4 linked regions of the Homo sapiens genome follow. The protein of the gene in region 1 purifies or fractionates together with the protein of each later gene. This does not show direct contact. Each region holds a gene or a part of one and is shown in the gene's direction. Other genes may lie near its edges.

Region 1 (3,493 bases):
CTCTGGGTGCCTGTGTTCTCGGCATATAGATGTGGTCTCGGTGTGTTTTGATATGAAAACTCTCATGAATAAACATCTCCGTGAAACGCCAAGGCCCTCGTCAAACCCTGAGTCATGACTGGGAGGAGAAGGAGCAGGATCAGACGGTAGAGCCTGGGGCATGCTCTTCAGGCATGCTCTTGCCTGCTGGATTGCCGGCGGCGGCCCTGGGACCCTCCCTCAGGCTGGCTCTGAGGGACCCTGGCTGTGCAAAGCTGGCGGCCACTGCTTGTGGCGCCTCCAGACTGAAGGCCACCATCTCTGAGTGGGCGTCCATTGTTCTCACTGGGACTGTCTGCAGCGGGGCTGGGCCTCCCACAGTGTAGGGATCAGTGTCCTGACACTGGGAAGTGTGTCCACACGTCTGAGGCTTCCCTTCCTAGGGAAAGGTGGCCCTGGGAGGCTCCTTTGTGTGCCTCTGCTCCCCACAATCGTGGTGGGAAGGGGCCGCTGGGGGAGTGGCAGCCCCGGCATCTCAGGCTGCTTCTGGACAGAGCACAGGCTGTGTCTCCAGTAACCTAGGGAGCCCTTGGCATTCATGGGGCCAGTGACCCGTGCCCAGTGTCTCTTGACCCTTCCTCACAGCAACCTGAGGAGTAGACCAGGCCTCACCTGAAATCTGTGTCAGGGTTCTCTAGAGAGACAGGACTCTATATGAAGAGTATATATGAAGAGTTTATTGGGAGTATTGACTCACGTGATCACAAGGTGAAGTCCCACAATAAGCCATGTGCAAGGTGAGGAGCAAGGAAGCCAGTCTGAGTCCCAAAACAAAAGTAGAGAAGCCGATAGTGCAGCCTTCATCCTGTGGCCAAAGGCTGCAGAGCCCCTGGCAAGCCACTGGTGTAGGTCCGAGAGTCCAAAAGCTGAAGAACCTGGAGGCCGACGTGCGAGGGCGGGAAGCATCCAGCATGGGAGAAAGATGGAGGCCAGATTCAGCCAGTCTAGTCTTTCCACGTTCCTCTGCCTGCTTGTATCCTGGCTGTGCTGGCAGCCGATTAGGTGGTGCCCACCTGGATTGAGGGTGGGTCTGCCTCTCCCAGCCCACTGACTCAAATGGGAATCTCCTCTGGCAACACCCTCACAGACACACCCAGTGACAATACTTTGCATCCTTCAATCCAGTCAAGCTGACACTCAGCATTCACCATCACACCTGGGAAGCATGGAACCCAGAAACAAGTGCCAGGGCTCCAGTGCCAGTGCCTGTCCTGGGAAGATACCCAAGAGAAGACATGACCAGGACCTTGGGGGAGCATGAAATGGTGAGGGCACAGTGAGCTTGAAGGCTGATGTCACCTGCCAGGAGAGCGGCTGGCAGTCCTGCCTGGTGCCCCCCAAGGGGCAGAGCTGGCAGAGAGGGGCCTCCAATCGAAGGCCAGGAGTCGTGGAGCTCCAGTGCCTTGGTGTGGCTGGCCTTCTTGCCCCCCTCCCAGAGGACCCCGCCAGTAACAGCCCTGCTGGTGGAACCTTCCCCAGTGGGCATGAAAGAAATGAGGGCCCCACAAGCCACATGGACTCTGATGCCTGGAGCCAAGAATACCCCTTAGGGTGGTAGAAACCGCCCCCGGGGCACTGTGCAGTGTGGCTGGCTCTCCAGCATCAGGAGTACTGGGGATTGCCTGGGGGACGACTCCTAGGGCTGGGCGCCCGTGGGCCCTCCCCTGCTGCCACTGCGGCCCACGCAAGCCGGGCCTGAAGGGCGCGAGCGGCATGGGTGGGGAGCTTGAGGGGGCGTTGGGCTCCCACCAAGCGCCAGATCCTTGCGCGCCTCCAGCGCTCGCCCGCGCGGCTGGTTCCTTTGGGATGCGGAGGTGCGACGGCTCCTCCGCGCGCGCCCGCTGCACCCCAGCCCGCCCGCCGCCCCTCCCGGCCCTCCGCAGCCTCGGCCCGCCCTCGCCGCAGATATAAGGCGGCCCAGGCGGTGGCTGCTCCGAGCCCGGACGCCGCCGCCCACCAGTCAGCCGGCGTCCCCATGGCCCGGTCCGCGACACTGGCGGCCGCCGCCCTGGCGCTGTGCCTGCTGCTGGCGCCGCCTGGCCTCGCGTGGTACAAGCCAGCGGCGGGGCACAGCTCCTACTCGGTGGGCCGCGCCGCGGGGCTGCTGTCCGGCCTCCGCAGGTCCCCGTACGCGCGGCGCTCCCAGCCCTACAGAGGGGCGGAACCCCCGGGCGGGGCCGGCGCCTCCCCGGAGCTGCAACTGCACCCCAGGCTGCGGAGCCTCGTGAGTCCGGCGTGCCGGGGACTGATGGGGGGCGGCGGCAGGACGTGGGTGGGGGTGCGGCGGCCCCTCAGCCTTTGCTTGCCTGCCCCCCAGGCTGTGTGCGTCCAGGACGTCGCCCCAAACCTGCAGAGGTGCGAGCGGCTCCCCGACGGCCGCGGGACCTACCAGTGCAAGGCGAACGTCTTCCTGTCCCTGCGCGCAGCCGACTGCCTCGCCGCCTGAGCCCGGACCTCTCCTGGCACCGCTGGGGGCCCCCCGCCCCCACCGTCCCACTCGGTGACCCCAGGCCCCTCCGGCGCGGGATGGCGCCCCAGGTCTCCCCTACTCCGCTCACCCCGCAGTTAATGGCAAACGAATAAATAAATGAGGCGGCCTCGGAGTGAGGGGTGCTGGAGGACTGGCAGCCAGGCCACGAGGGGAACGGGACCTGGAAATCCCCAAGCCTGGGTATGAGAAGGCAGCCGAGTGTGCGGCGGCAGGGCAAGGTTGGCCTGGGCCGCCCAGAGGTCTTCAGACCCAGGGGCGAAGCTGGCCACGACCCAGCCCCGCGGTGAAGCCGCGCCTAGCCTTGGTGCTCCCTGGGGGAAGTGCAGGGCCACGGCTGGCCCGGTTCCCAGTGTCCTCCCCCAGCCCTTCGCTCCCCAACTCGAGAGCCAAATCTGTGAGGGCATGGGCTGGAGCCCCTGGCTGCCTTCCTCTTGCCCCCATCCCTTCTGGCCAGGCCAAGTCCGAGGGTGCAGGGGCAAGGAGGAGAGTTGGGGGCCTGAGCCCTGGCTCCAGAGGCCCAGAGCATGCCTCCCCAGAGCTGAAGGTGGGAGATGGGTAGGTTCTCCCTCCGCCGTTGGGTGTGACTCCGGAACTGGCTTGGGCTCTGGCCTCCAATGCTGCTACGGGGCCAGGCCCACCTCCGGGCCCAGGCAGCAGCACTGCAGGGCCTTTCTACCCTCCCCAAGCCTGGGGCCCAGGCAGCCCCTGTCCAGCACCAATCTGTCTATGGGGAACTGGCTGGTCCCTCTGCTCAGGGGACCCCGCAGTCCAGGGTTCTGAGTGGGAGCATTGGCACCACCCCACTCCTGAAAGCGGGGGCCTGGCAGGATGAGGATGGCCTGTGCCCCCCACACCTTGGCCCCTGGCTCGGAGAGCAGGGTGACAGGCTGCCTTCCTGGGCTGTGGAGAGCCTCGCGTGCACCTCGCCTCCAGCTCCTGTGCTGGGTCGTGAGGTCGACCTCA
Region 2 (3,936 bases), on another chromosome or scaffold:
AGACTCATCCCCAGGGATGTCCCTCTCAAAGTTGGCACTTCCTTGAGGAAGAGTCATACAGAGAAGACACTGAAAGGCCACATCTGTGAGCATTGGAAGTCAGGGACAGGAATGGCACTTCCTAATCTCAAGGCCAGGGGTCTGTGAAAGATCTTCTTTGAGAATAACAAAGACCTTAACTTCAACCAAGCATCTCTATGACCCGCTGTGAAATCTGAGGGAAGTCACTTATCCTTTCTGGCTCTCAATATTTTTATCTGGGGGAAAAAAAAGAAAAGAAAATCATCTACAAAGTGCTTTTAGAAATATAAGGAAATAACACATGGCAAGTGCAAACATGTAACACCTTACGAAAGTGGTGTTATTGTTTGAAAAAACAATGGATGGCTGGATGCTGGCTCACAGCTGTAATGCCAGCACTTTGGGAGGCCAAGGAGGGTGGATTGCTTGAGGTCAGTAGCTCAAGACCAGCCTGGCCAACATGGAGAAACCTTGTCTCTACTAAATAGAAACCAAAATTAGCTAGCATGCACCTGTAGTCCCAACTACTTGGGAGGCTGAGGCATGAGAATCGCTTGAACCTGGGAAGCGGAGGTTGCAGTGAGCCGAGATCGTGCCACTGCACACCAGCCTGGGCGACAGAGAGAGACTTTGTCTCAAAACAATAAAAATATATAAAATAAAAAACAAGGGTTATCATAAATTTGTCATTCCCTTGTCCTTGAAATGGTTATCATTAATGAATAACAATTCCAATTTAATCATGATTAAAACAGTCACTTTATTTAATCTCAGCAATTTTCCAGCTGTGATATATGATAAATTATCAACACAGGGCCTACGTGTCAGGTAGAAAACCACATCTACTCATAGTGGGTTATCTGGAACAGGCTTTACCTCCCAAGGGCCTCAGAAAGCCTCTCTCTTCTGTTCCCACAGCCATCTCCACGAAGAGTCCCATATTTGGTCCCGAGGAGGTGAATAGTGTGGAAGGTAACTCAGTGTCCATCACGTGCTACTACCCACCCACCTCTGTCAACCGGCACACCCGGAAGTACTGGTGCCGGCAGGGAGCTAGAGGTGGCTGCATAACCCTCATCTCCTCGGAGGGCTACGTCTCCAGCAAATATGCAGGCAGGGCTAACCTCACCAACTTCCCGGAGAACGGCACATTTGTGGTGAACATTGCCCAGCTGAGCCAGGATGACTCCGGGCGCTACAAGTGTGGCCTGGGCATCAATAGCCGAGGCCTGTCCTTTGATGTCAGCCTGGAGGTCAGCCAGGGTAAGGATCCAAGCTCCTTGGGCTTCTGGGGGAAAGTTAGAGGGAATTCTCTAAGGTGCATGGAGGGCTTGAGGAGGAACTTCCTGACAAGGATGTGTAGCCGGGTTGGGGGTCAGAAGGCACCCCTTTCCCCAGGCAAAGACTTCTTTAACAGGAGAAGGAGACAGATAGGGCCTACTTGGGGGTGATGAGTGAACCCTTCTAGGACTTGGTGGCCTATAACATTTTAGGCTTTCTGGAGACCCCAGCTTAGAAGGGTATCAGAAGGACAAGTTTTCTGGTGTTTGCTACAGGTAGAAAGGGAAATCTGACATCAGGCTAAGGAGATAGAAAAGGTAGGGAGAGATTTACAGGGATCCTTAAATTCCTATCATTAATGCACCTTTCCATCAAGGTTTGGGCCGCCAAAAGGCTTCTTGTAAAATGCATATTTTTTTTTTAACCTGGGAACCCTTAGTCTTTTGGTATTATCAGGGTAAATTAGATTATTAGATCTTGACCAAAGACCAAGATCCTGAAAGGATGGGTTGCTAACAAGCCTATTCTAGTTGGAGAAAGAGAAAAAAAGAAAAGCTCTTTCTGACAAGGGTTTAACAATGAGGCTGTTTTAGATAGTCAAGGGCAACTCAAAAGAGAGGTCTACGGAGAAAAGAAATTCAGGGGGACTCCCAAAGACATGTCTTGCTCCTTTGGAATATGCATACTATTGTCTGTGGACTAAATGAGGAGGTCATTTAGGTGGGGATCAAGATTCAAAACCACAGAATCTTTAGAGGTGAAGAGGGCTTAGAGTTCACCCTAACCGGACACTTAGAAGAACATGCTGATGACGGGTATGCAGCCTCTGATTAAGCACTTTAGCAGAAACTCACTGCTCCCTGAGACAGCCCATTTCACATTTAGACTCTTGTAATTTTTAGAAACTTCTATTGTATGCGTTGAAATCCATCACCCTGCATTTACATTCATTCTGTTCATTTCAGCACACATTAATTTGGCCACCTACTACCCAGAGGCATTGTGCTTGTCACAGCAGAGGGGTCAAACATGAGAAAAACATGTTCCAGCCTTCAAGGAACTTCCAGTCCATGGAGAACATAATTACCCATACACCAGATTGGATGTAATAAGTGATGCAGATGTATCAAGAAAGCACAGGGCAGGGAGAGATTAGTGTTAGCTTGGGAAAGGTTTCATGGAGAAGACCGCTGTCAAGCTGGGCCTTCCGACAGCATTCCTCTGGGAAGGAGGGCATTCCAGGTTATAAGTCCACCCACACCCTAACTAGGAATAGCAAATAGTCCTATGTTGCAAGAAAGTAGAATCGTAACTTGCCTGCCCCCTACCTTGCACCCCTCATCCTGCAGGTCCTGGGCTCCTAAATGACACTAAAGTCTACACAGTGGACCTGGGCAGAACGGTGACCATCAACTGCCCTTTCAAGACTGAGAATGCTCAAAAGAGGAAGTCCTTGTACAAGCAGATAGGCCTGTACCCTGTGCTGGTCATCGACTCCAGTGGTTATGTAAATCCCAACTATACAGGAAGAATACGCCTTGATATTCAGGGTACTGGCCAGTTACTGTTCAGCGTTGTCATCAACCAACTCAGGCTCAGCGATGCTGGGCAGTATCTCTGCCAGGCTGGGGATGATTCCAATAGTAATAAGAAGAATGCTGACCTCCAAGTGCTAAAGCCCGAGCCCGAGCTGGTTTATGAAGACCTGAGGGGCTCAGTGACCTTCCACTGTGCCCTGGGCCCTGAGGTGGCAAACGTGGCCAAATTTCTGTGCCGACAGAGCAGTGGGGAAAACTGTGACGTGGTCGTCAACACCCTGGGGAAGAGGGCCCCAGCCTTTGAGGGCAGGATCCTGCTCAACCCCCAGGACAAGGATGGCTCATTCAGTGTGGTGATCACAGGCCTGAGGAAGGAGGATGCAGGGCGCTACCTGTGTGGAGCCCATTCGGATGGTCAGCTGCAGGAAGGCTCGCCTATCCAGGCCTGGCAACTCTTCGTCAATGAGGGTAAGACCCTAGAGAGGGAGGGGGAGTAGGTGGGGCAGTCTCGCAGGTGAGAGCCAAGCTCAGCTCCCTCTGAGTGTATTCATCAATAGTCATCAATCAGCCAACAGCATCCACTCAATGACCAGCCCCGAACTGGAGGCTGCGTGGGCTGCTGCACAGGACAGCAAGAAAAAGCAACCTCTGCCTGATGGCAGCTCCTAATTACTCTTCTGTTATCAAAGTCATTTTGATGGCTGTCCCTGCTTAACAAGCAAGAGGTGAGTAAAGCTCTTGATTGAGGCAGGACTTATAGACTGTGTTTCAGGGCTGTGGCAGGCTCTGCAGGGGTCCTCTGTCCCCTCCCCTGGCCCCTGAACAAGATGGGTGCCTCATCCCTCACATTCAGATGGAAAAAGGATTGGCTTATCTTGGTCTCAATGCGTTCCCAGGAGTGCCCCAGCCTCTAAATGTTTCACTGTCACATTTCGTAGGGTTATTTGTGAATTTCAGCACCATCTGGCCCACTCAGCCCTACTCCAGTGAGCCATCAGCATGGTGAAAGAATTAAATCCCAGCTCCTTCTCATCCCAGAGCACCCTGCATAGAGTTGCCCTCGTGAGAAGCAGCAAACCAGTACTTGCAGTTCCAA
Region 3 (3,936 bases), on another chromosome or scaffold:
CACTCCCAGGGGATTTACATGACAGGATTCTCAGGAGAAGATAGGTAGCAGGTAACAAAAGCTGAGATAAGGAGACTAGTCAGGAAGCTATGGCAGTGGTCCAGATAAAAGATGATGGTGACTTGCACTAAATTTCAGCAATTAAAAGATAAGAGTGGGTTTAGGATATATTTTAGTGATTGAGTCTACTATATCTTCTGCTGGATTGTATATGTGGTAAAAGAAAGAAATGAACAGGCCGGGCGCGGTGGCTCATGCCTGTAGTCCCAGCACTTTCGGAGGCCAAGGCAGGTGGATCACCCGAGGTCAGGAGTTCAAGACCAGCCTGGCCAACATGGTGAAACCCCGTCTCTATTAAAAATACAAAAATTAGCTGGGTGTGGTGGTGGGCACCTGTAATCCCAGCTACTCAGGAGGCTGAGACAGGAGAATTGCTCGAACCTGGGAGGCAGAGTTTGCAGTGAGCCGAGATTGCATCACTGCACTACAGCCTGGGTGACAGAGCAAGATTTTGTCTCAAAAGAAAAAAAAAGAAAGAAATGAACAAAAACGTTCTAGTTTGGGGCATGTTACATTTGAAATGGCTATTAGACTTCCACATCAAGATATCAAGAAAACAGTGGATATATGTTGTCTGGAGTTCAGAAAGAAATCTAGGGGTAAAGTCTATATTTAAAACATACTTGAAGCCATGAAACCTTACAACATTTTCACCTAGGGAGAAAATGTAGGAAGTTTAGATATGGATAGAGAAAATGGAGGACCCACAAGAGGGGACAGGAAAGGATGGCTTCCAAAACCAAGAGAAGACTACAAAGTGGACCTTCTATCTTTAAGAAATTTAGGGTGTACTGGCAAAGGAAGATTAAAATTAATAATGATATAATGTGATTACAAGGTGATACATGCTGTAATAATAACCATATTTTTCTCTCATGCTATGTACCTGCAAGTATTTATTAAATTTTATTTTGACAAAATTTCAAATAAGAATCAAGAAGTGGAATGTACTTTTTTATTGAATGAGGATGGATAGCCTCAGAATATTACGCCAGTAGAGTAGAGAGAGAGAGGGCAGAAGAACTGATGAAGTGGACGGAATTTACTCTTGGATATTCTCATATTTCTCACTTACCTTATAATATCCCCCAGAAAACAATCAGGCTTTTTCCCGGACCCTAATGCTGATTTCTGTGACTAGAAGAGTGTTCAAGCTGGGCTCAGAAGATGTGGGCTTAAACTCATCTCTAATGTTTACCATCCAGATGAATCTTGAGCAATTTAGAATCTATTTATAGGGCCCCAATTTCCCTATGTGTAAAATAATAACAACACTATATGCTTCACAGGGCTGCTGAAGGGTAAATGAGAATTTATAAATTATAAACTATAGTGTAGATATAAAAATTATGACAAGATTATTGTAATCTCAATTTACATACTAGTTGATAAGGCTTTAAGTTCTGAATATGCACAGTGATGTTAACTTTTTAATAAGTAAAGTTTTAATAAGGAATCCCTGGCTACCAACACCTCTATATTGAAAGAAATAATTTTCCAATCAACACAAGTCATGTTATTGTGAAATGATGAATCTGGGTTGTTCTTTTGAAGTGGCCTTTCATCATAACTCCCTCAAATCCAGACACCTAAAGAATCCTTTCTTCCAAGTGCTTAGAATAAATAAAACTCTTCAAGCTGCCCAAATCTCAAAAAAGTGCCTGGTGAGAGAAAGAGTTTCCAAAGAACTTGAATATGAGAAGGTAGCACAGAAATACCTTGACCTGATCCTTAGAAAATACAGGAATGTGAGGTCAGGAGTTCGAGACCAGCCTGGCCAACATGGTGAAACATCGTCTCTACTAAAAATACAAAAATTAGCTGGGCGTGGTGGCCCACACCTGTAATTGCAGCTACTTGGGAGGCTGATGGAGGAGAATCACTTGAACTTGGGAGGCAGAGGTTGCAGTGAGCCAAGATCGTGCCACTGCACTTCAGCCTGGGTGACAGAGCGAGACTCCGTCTCAAAAAAAATAAAAAGAAAAGAAAATACAGGAATGTACCGGAGATTAGCATTAACCCACAGCCAGAAAAGGTCAGTCCTGGAGCTCTAGCAACAACCTGCTTTTGTGGAGTGATTTCAGGGAGCAGATAGTCTGGCTTCTCTCTTCCAGATGTCCCAAAGAAAGACTTGAAGGGATGTATTCTGGAGTCAGATGAAGAGCTCTGTCAACTATAGCATTATTTAGCATAATGCTTTCATTCTCTTTAAAAAAGGATCACAGATTTTCAAATGGTCATAAAAATAAGCTGGTAGCAAATGAAGAAATGAATTGTGCTTTCTAATTTCAATTAAATGTAATCTTGGGCCGGGTGCCGTGGCTCACACCTGTAATTCCAGCACTTTCAGAGGCCGCGGCGGGAAGATCACCTGAGGTCAGGAGTTCAAGACCAGCCTGGCCAACATGGTGAAACCCCCATCTCTACTAAGAATACAAAAATTAGCCAGGCATGCAGTACACACCTGTAATTCCAGCTTCTAGGGAGGCTGAGGCAGGAGAATCCCTTGAACCCAGGAGACGTAGGTTGCAGTGAGCTGAGATCATGCCACTGCACTCCAACTGGGTGACAGAGTGAGACTCTGTCTCAAAATACAAAAGTAAAAAATGTAATCTTGGCCTTTCTGTCTTCTAATTCTCTCCCTTTCTGACTAATTTTCTCCTCCTCTTCCTTCCTCAGAGAATTTGGCATTCCTCTAGTTATTTTAGGAGTCTTCTGCTTTCTCATACCCTCCTTTCTTGCTGCAAGTGCCATGTGTCTCTCCTTCTCCTTCCCTTGACTCCAGCCTACTCTATCCTTGTTCCTCATGTCTTCTCCCTCTTCTCTGCTCTCAAAAGTACAGTTTGCAAATGGAGAAACATTCTCCTAAAAGTTACTTAGTCTGAGACTCAGTTTTCCCATCCATATAATGAAGATAATAACCGTACCCACCTTATGATATTACTAAGAAATTAAATAAATTTGTATTTGTAAACCACTCAGAATAGGGCCTAACATAAAGTGTTACATGAAGACTTTTTTAATAAAAATAAATAATGAATGTGAACAGGCAGGCAGGGTTGCTATCTTTAATACACCCTCCCTGGCATATCTATATTTATTATAAGGACCTCCATACTTCAGTCACCTAAACTCAAACTTTAGAGGCATGCATTTTCAACTCCTTCCTCTCTCAGACTTCTCTAAATCCAACTCTAGTCTACAATTTCTGTTATAACCACCTGTAACTGCCAATCATAATAACTAATCAATATATTAAGTAAATCAAACAAACTGGTCATTTGATACATGTTCCAGGCCAAGCTAACATTAAAATTAATAGGATTTTAATCAATTTGCCTTCATATAAAAATGTGGTAGGTATTATTTTGGTCACCTAAAGTAAAATAGCTGAAACTATTTTACATATGAATAAACACTTTTAAATGTTAATACTTTATTCAATAACAAATTAGTTATTGTTATCATTTCCATGCATTTACTCATTCAATTAATAGCTAATGAGTACCTGCCATATGCCAGGCATAGTTTTAGGTATTGGACTTACAGAGGTGAATCAAAGAGGGGCCTTCGTGAGGCTCATGTGATTAAGGGAATGAACCACATAACTATTTCAAAGCAAATAAAATTAGACTTTGGATCTGGAATTTAATTTAATCCAAATCATTTTATAAATGAATAAGCCGACATCCAGGCACATTAAGTGACTTGACCAAAGTCACTCAGCTATTCAGTGGCAGACACAGGACAGAGCCAAACCTCCACTGCTGGTCTGTTGCAGCATGTTTCATACATGTTCCTATAAGATCTGGACATTCTTTGCAACATCCTCAGAGACCATCTGGAAAGGGAAAGACCGAGATCATGGAATGTGAG
Region 4 (3,936 bases), on another chromosome or scaffold:
GAGGCTGCAGTGAGCTGTGTGATCGCACCACTGCACTCCAGCCTAGGTGACAGAGCGAGACCCTGCCAAAAAAAAAGAAAAAAAGAAAAAAGTCCTGCGGTGTTGCTGTGGTGTTCTCATTTGAGGAGATCTTCAATGGCATTGGAGCCCTGGCCCTGGGGCAGTTTTTTCTGTGACTCAGGGTAGACCAGTCACTCTCCACCGCTCTTTGCCTCCAGGACTCCTGCTCTTCCCAGGAGGCAGGACGAGATGGGGGTAGGTAGGAGCATAGGATGTGGAGTCAGGCACGTCTCAGTTCTCATTCCAACAACACTTGTCACTCGTGGGGCACCCTGGGCCAGCAGCTGCTCCGTGCCGAGTGTGTTTCCCCATCAGTCAAACGGCTTGTAAGCCCCGAGGGTCATTGAATGGCTCAACGGGACACTATTTGTGAAGTCCCAGCACAGAGCCTGGCATTCAGGAAATGGCAGGGGGTGGGAGTGAGGGTATCAGTGGCCTCTTGGTCCGGTGACTAAAATAACTTTACTGGGTCGGAAAGCTCTCCCTGAACTTCCAGAACAAAGCATGGGCCCCACATGGTGCTACCTCCCAGCAAGAAAGGGGTTGGGAAACAAAGGGCTGGGGCCCAGCGAGCCCCCTGACTTGTGTTTTCCAGACCTGTCTTCCTCGCTGGAAGTTTTGCGTGAGTGACACAGAAAACAACCTGGGCTTTGCGTTGGGCCCCATGTTTGTCAAAGCAACCTTCGCCGAGGACAGCAAGAGCATAGTAAGTGCCTTCCCCGTGGACACAGGCTGTGAGGTCACACTTGTTGTGGCCTGCACAGACCTGCCAGTTCACACTCCAGCCCACCCTGGGCCTTTCCTGCTCCTGGGCAGGGGACCTTAGGGCCACAGCCTCAATGCAGAGGCTTCACTTCCTCGAGCCCTGGGTAATGGGAGTCTCACGAGGGCAGCTCTTCAGTGCCAGGCCCTTATCTGCACGAGCTCATGTGATCCTCCCAGCAGCCTGCAAGGCTGTGACAGCCATCCCCACCTCCAAGGGCTGTGAACGACCCAGAGAGAATGTTGGCAGAACAGCTCTGGCCCAGAGGGTGACATTTTTCTTATTTTGTGGGTGACAGGTTTGTTCTAGACAGGCAGAGGAGTGCCATGGCAGAGCGCCTTGGAGACAGCCCGGCCTAAGCTCAGATCCTGGCCTCACCGCTGGTCGGGTGGCCTGGGACAGTTCTTACATCATCTGCAATGTGGAGACGGGGGCATTCCTCCCACAGAGAGAGATTAAATGAGATGCCACACACTGGGCACCGGCATACAATAAGGGTTCAGCTAATGGGAGTGGTCATTTTATTGTTACAATCTTGATGACAAATAGTATTCATTATGTAGCTGTCATCTGCAGCCGGAGGTGAGCCAACCGCAATTCAAATCCATTACAGTGACTGGCCTGTGAGCAGCTGGGCAGGGTCTGAGTTGGGGTCTGCTGGCCCCTCTGCTCTTGTTGCCGCACAGCTCTGCCTTCCCCTTCTCTAGAACCTTCAACTTTCCATCTTCGAGCTTGTCTGCTCATGACATTGTCTCCCTCAAGAACACCTGTCTATATCCAGCCTGAGCATGGTATTTCCGAAGCTGCTCCTCGGAACATGAGTACTCTAGATCTTAAAGCCCGCTCCATCAAAAAGGAATGCTGTGGTCCAATAAGGCAATAAGGCTGGGAGAGGCTGTGTCTTCTCCCCTCTCTGGAAGAATCACGGTGCCTATTATTACCATATTAAAGGCTCTGAAAAGTACCACAGCAGAGACTTTTCCAACTTTCCCGAAGCTCATCCTAAGCTTATTGGAGCATGGAGCCCTGTGTGTGGAAGGCCAGTCCTGTCTTGCAGGGTGTTCACGTTAGGAGCGTGGTTTGGAAGCACAGCTGTGGCTCCCCTTCTCACCCAGCCTGACGCTTGGAAAATTGAGTTTAATCTCTGGCCATCATTGTTCTGCACGGGGTGCCTGTTGCATTTACCTGAGACCAGTGCGCAGACCTTACTGCTGTGATGTGTATCTCCTCAGGCCACCGAGATCATCCTGGAGATTAAGAAGGCATTTGAGGAAAGCCTGAGCACCCTGAAGTGGATGGATGAGGAAACCCGAAAATCAGCCAAGGAAAAGGTGAGGCTGGCCAGGCACTTGGAGGGGGTGCTGCGGCGTCCAGCACAGATAGAGGAGGGTGGGGGAAGGAGAGGCCGGTTTTTTTGTTTGTTTTTTGAGGCAGAGTTTCGTTCTTGTTACCCAGGCTGGAGTGCTATGGTGCGATCTTGGCTCACCGCAACCTCCGCCTCCCGGGTTCAAGCGATTCTCCCACCTCAGCCTCCCGAGCAGCTGGGATTACAGGCGTGCGCCACCACGCTCGGTTAATTTTGTATTTTTAGTAGAGATGGGGTTTCTCCATGTGGGTCAGGTTGGTCTCAAACTCCCGACCTCAGGTGATCGACCCGCCTTGGCCTGCCAAAGCGCTGGCATTATAGGCATAAGCCACCGCGCCCGGTGAGGCCAGTTCTGTCCGGCAGCACAGCCTGGATGCTGTCTCGCCTTCAGCGGGTGAGCGGTCTAGGCCTAGCAGGATTCGGGGTAGGCCTCAAGCACATGATTGCTTGGATGTCTGTAGAAGACAAACCTCGCTGAGTGTACGGGGAAAAGGTGCAGGAAAACGCAGCACGTCCCGTGGGTCGGGAAGGCTCTGGCACCCTCCAGTGGGATGGGAGTCAGGGAAGACTTCCCTTGGGAAAGTGACATTTAAACAGAGACCTAAGGGATAAGTAGAAGTTTTGCAAGGGGGAAACCTTTCCAGAAAAAGACATGAAAGCCCAAGGCAGGCAGGGCCTGGCTCTGGTTCCCCTTGGCCCAGACTATGAGCCCAGCACCCAAGTTGCTCAGGCTGGCCTGGTCGATGTTGCCGGGCACTCACTTCCTCTGTCTGTCCTGTCCAGGCCGATGCCATCTACAACATGATAGGATACCCCAACTTCATCATGGATCCCAAGGAGCTGGACAAAGTGTTTAATGACGTGAGTAGCTGCTGCCCTGCCCCCTTGCGTTCCTAAATGCCCCCTTAGAAAAGGGCCGAGGCAGGGCTGGGTCCAGATGGGGTGCTAGAGGCAGCATGGTTGTCAAAACACACAGGGATGATGTGGTGTGGGGCTTGGGTATGGGTCAGGCATGAGGAAGCCTCTTCTTCTTCTTAATTTGGCTCCTGGGTCAGCTGGAGGCCCTGCCTCCCCATAGCCACCATCCATCAGCAGTGCCCACCAGTCAGTACAGAACCCGTGCTGTGTGCCCCCTGGAAGTGGTCAGCTCCATTTAATATGTGGGAAATAATGGAGGAAACAGACCCCAGAAGGTGCAGAGAGAATTGGTGGCCCTCAGACATCAGGGGTGGGGTATGAAGTGGGAAAACCCCCACACCACCTCCTCCCTCCCTGGTCGTGCTTCCAGTTACCTCCTGTCCCTGCGGCCCTCCTCCACCTCCCCAGAAACCCGGACCTCTGATTTTGACTTTGAAATGCTAATGGGAAAGAAGCAGCTTAAATCCAGGTGCATTTTTAAGCTTGGTTTGGGCAATGGAGGTGGTTGATACATCCCTGCTTATTAGAACTTTTGGCAAATCACTCAGTTAGGTGGATTGTGCTTCTGCCTCAAATTATGAAGTTTTATATCTTCTTGTGATTGAAATACTTGAATTCAGGTATTTAAGAAAAAATTTTTTTTGAGACAGGGTCTCATTCTGTTGCCCAGACTGGAGTGTAGTGGTGCTATCTCAGCTCACTGCAACCTCCGCCTCCCAGGCTGGCTCATATTCATGAGCCACCATGCCCAGCCTGAATTCAGGCATTTAAAAATCTAATAACCTCTCGTCATGGTTATATTTAGAACCTAAGACTATAAAGACTCATT

The links.
Region 2: the proteins of NPB (region 1) and PIGR purify together in Homo sapiens (affinity purification with mass spectrometry; 2 studies listed by BioGRID and IntAct, with this or other methods). This does not show direct contact.
Region 3: the proteins of NPB (region 1) and MUC7 purify together in Homo sapiens (affinity purification with mass spectrometry; 2 studies listed by BioGRID and IntAct, with this or other methods). This does not show direct contact.
Region 4: the proteins of NPB (region 1) and ECE1 purify together in Homo sapiens (affinity purification with mass spectrometry; 2 studies listed by BioGRID and IntAct, with this or other methods). This does not show direct contact.

What each region holds. Positions count from the first base shown.
Region 1 is NC_000017.11:81,900,264-81,903,756, forward strand, and holds NPB (neuropeptide B preproprotein), read left to right. Parts: upstream 1-1,974; 5' UTR 1,975-2,014; coding exon 2,015-2,263; exon of another isoform or gene 2,264-2,356; coding exon 2,357-2,485; 3' UTR 2,486-2,642; downstream 2,643-3,493. UniProt on the Homo sapiens protein: May be involved in the regulation of feeding, neuroendocrine system, memory, learning and in the afferent pain pathway.
Region 2 is NC_000001.11:206,936,467-206,940,402, reverse strand, and holds part of PIGR (polymeric immunoglobulin receptor precursor), read left to right. Parts: intron 1-939; coding exon 940-1,284; intron 1,285-2,651; coding exon 2,652-3,308; intron 3,309-3,936.
Region 3 is NC_000004.12:70,474,761-70,478,696, forward strand, and holds part of MUC7 (mucin-7 precursor), read left to right. Parts: intron 1-3,936. UniProt on the Homo sapiens protein: May function in a protective capacity by promoting the clearance of bacteria in the oral cavity and aiding in mastication, speech, and swallowing. Binds P.aeruginosa pili.
Region 4 is NC_000001.11:21,234,964-21,238,899, reverse strand, and holds part of ECE1 (endothelin-converting enzyme 1), read left to right. Parts: intron 1-655; coding exon 656-766; intron 767-2,055; coding exon 2,056-2,154; intron 2,155-2,972; coding exon 2,973-3,050; intron 3,051-3,936. UniProt on the Homo sapiens protein: Converts big endothelin-1 to endothelin-1.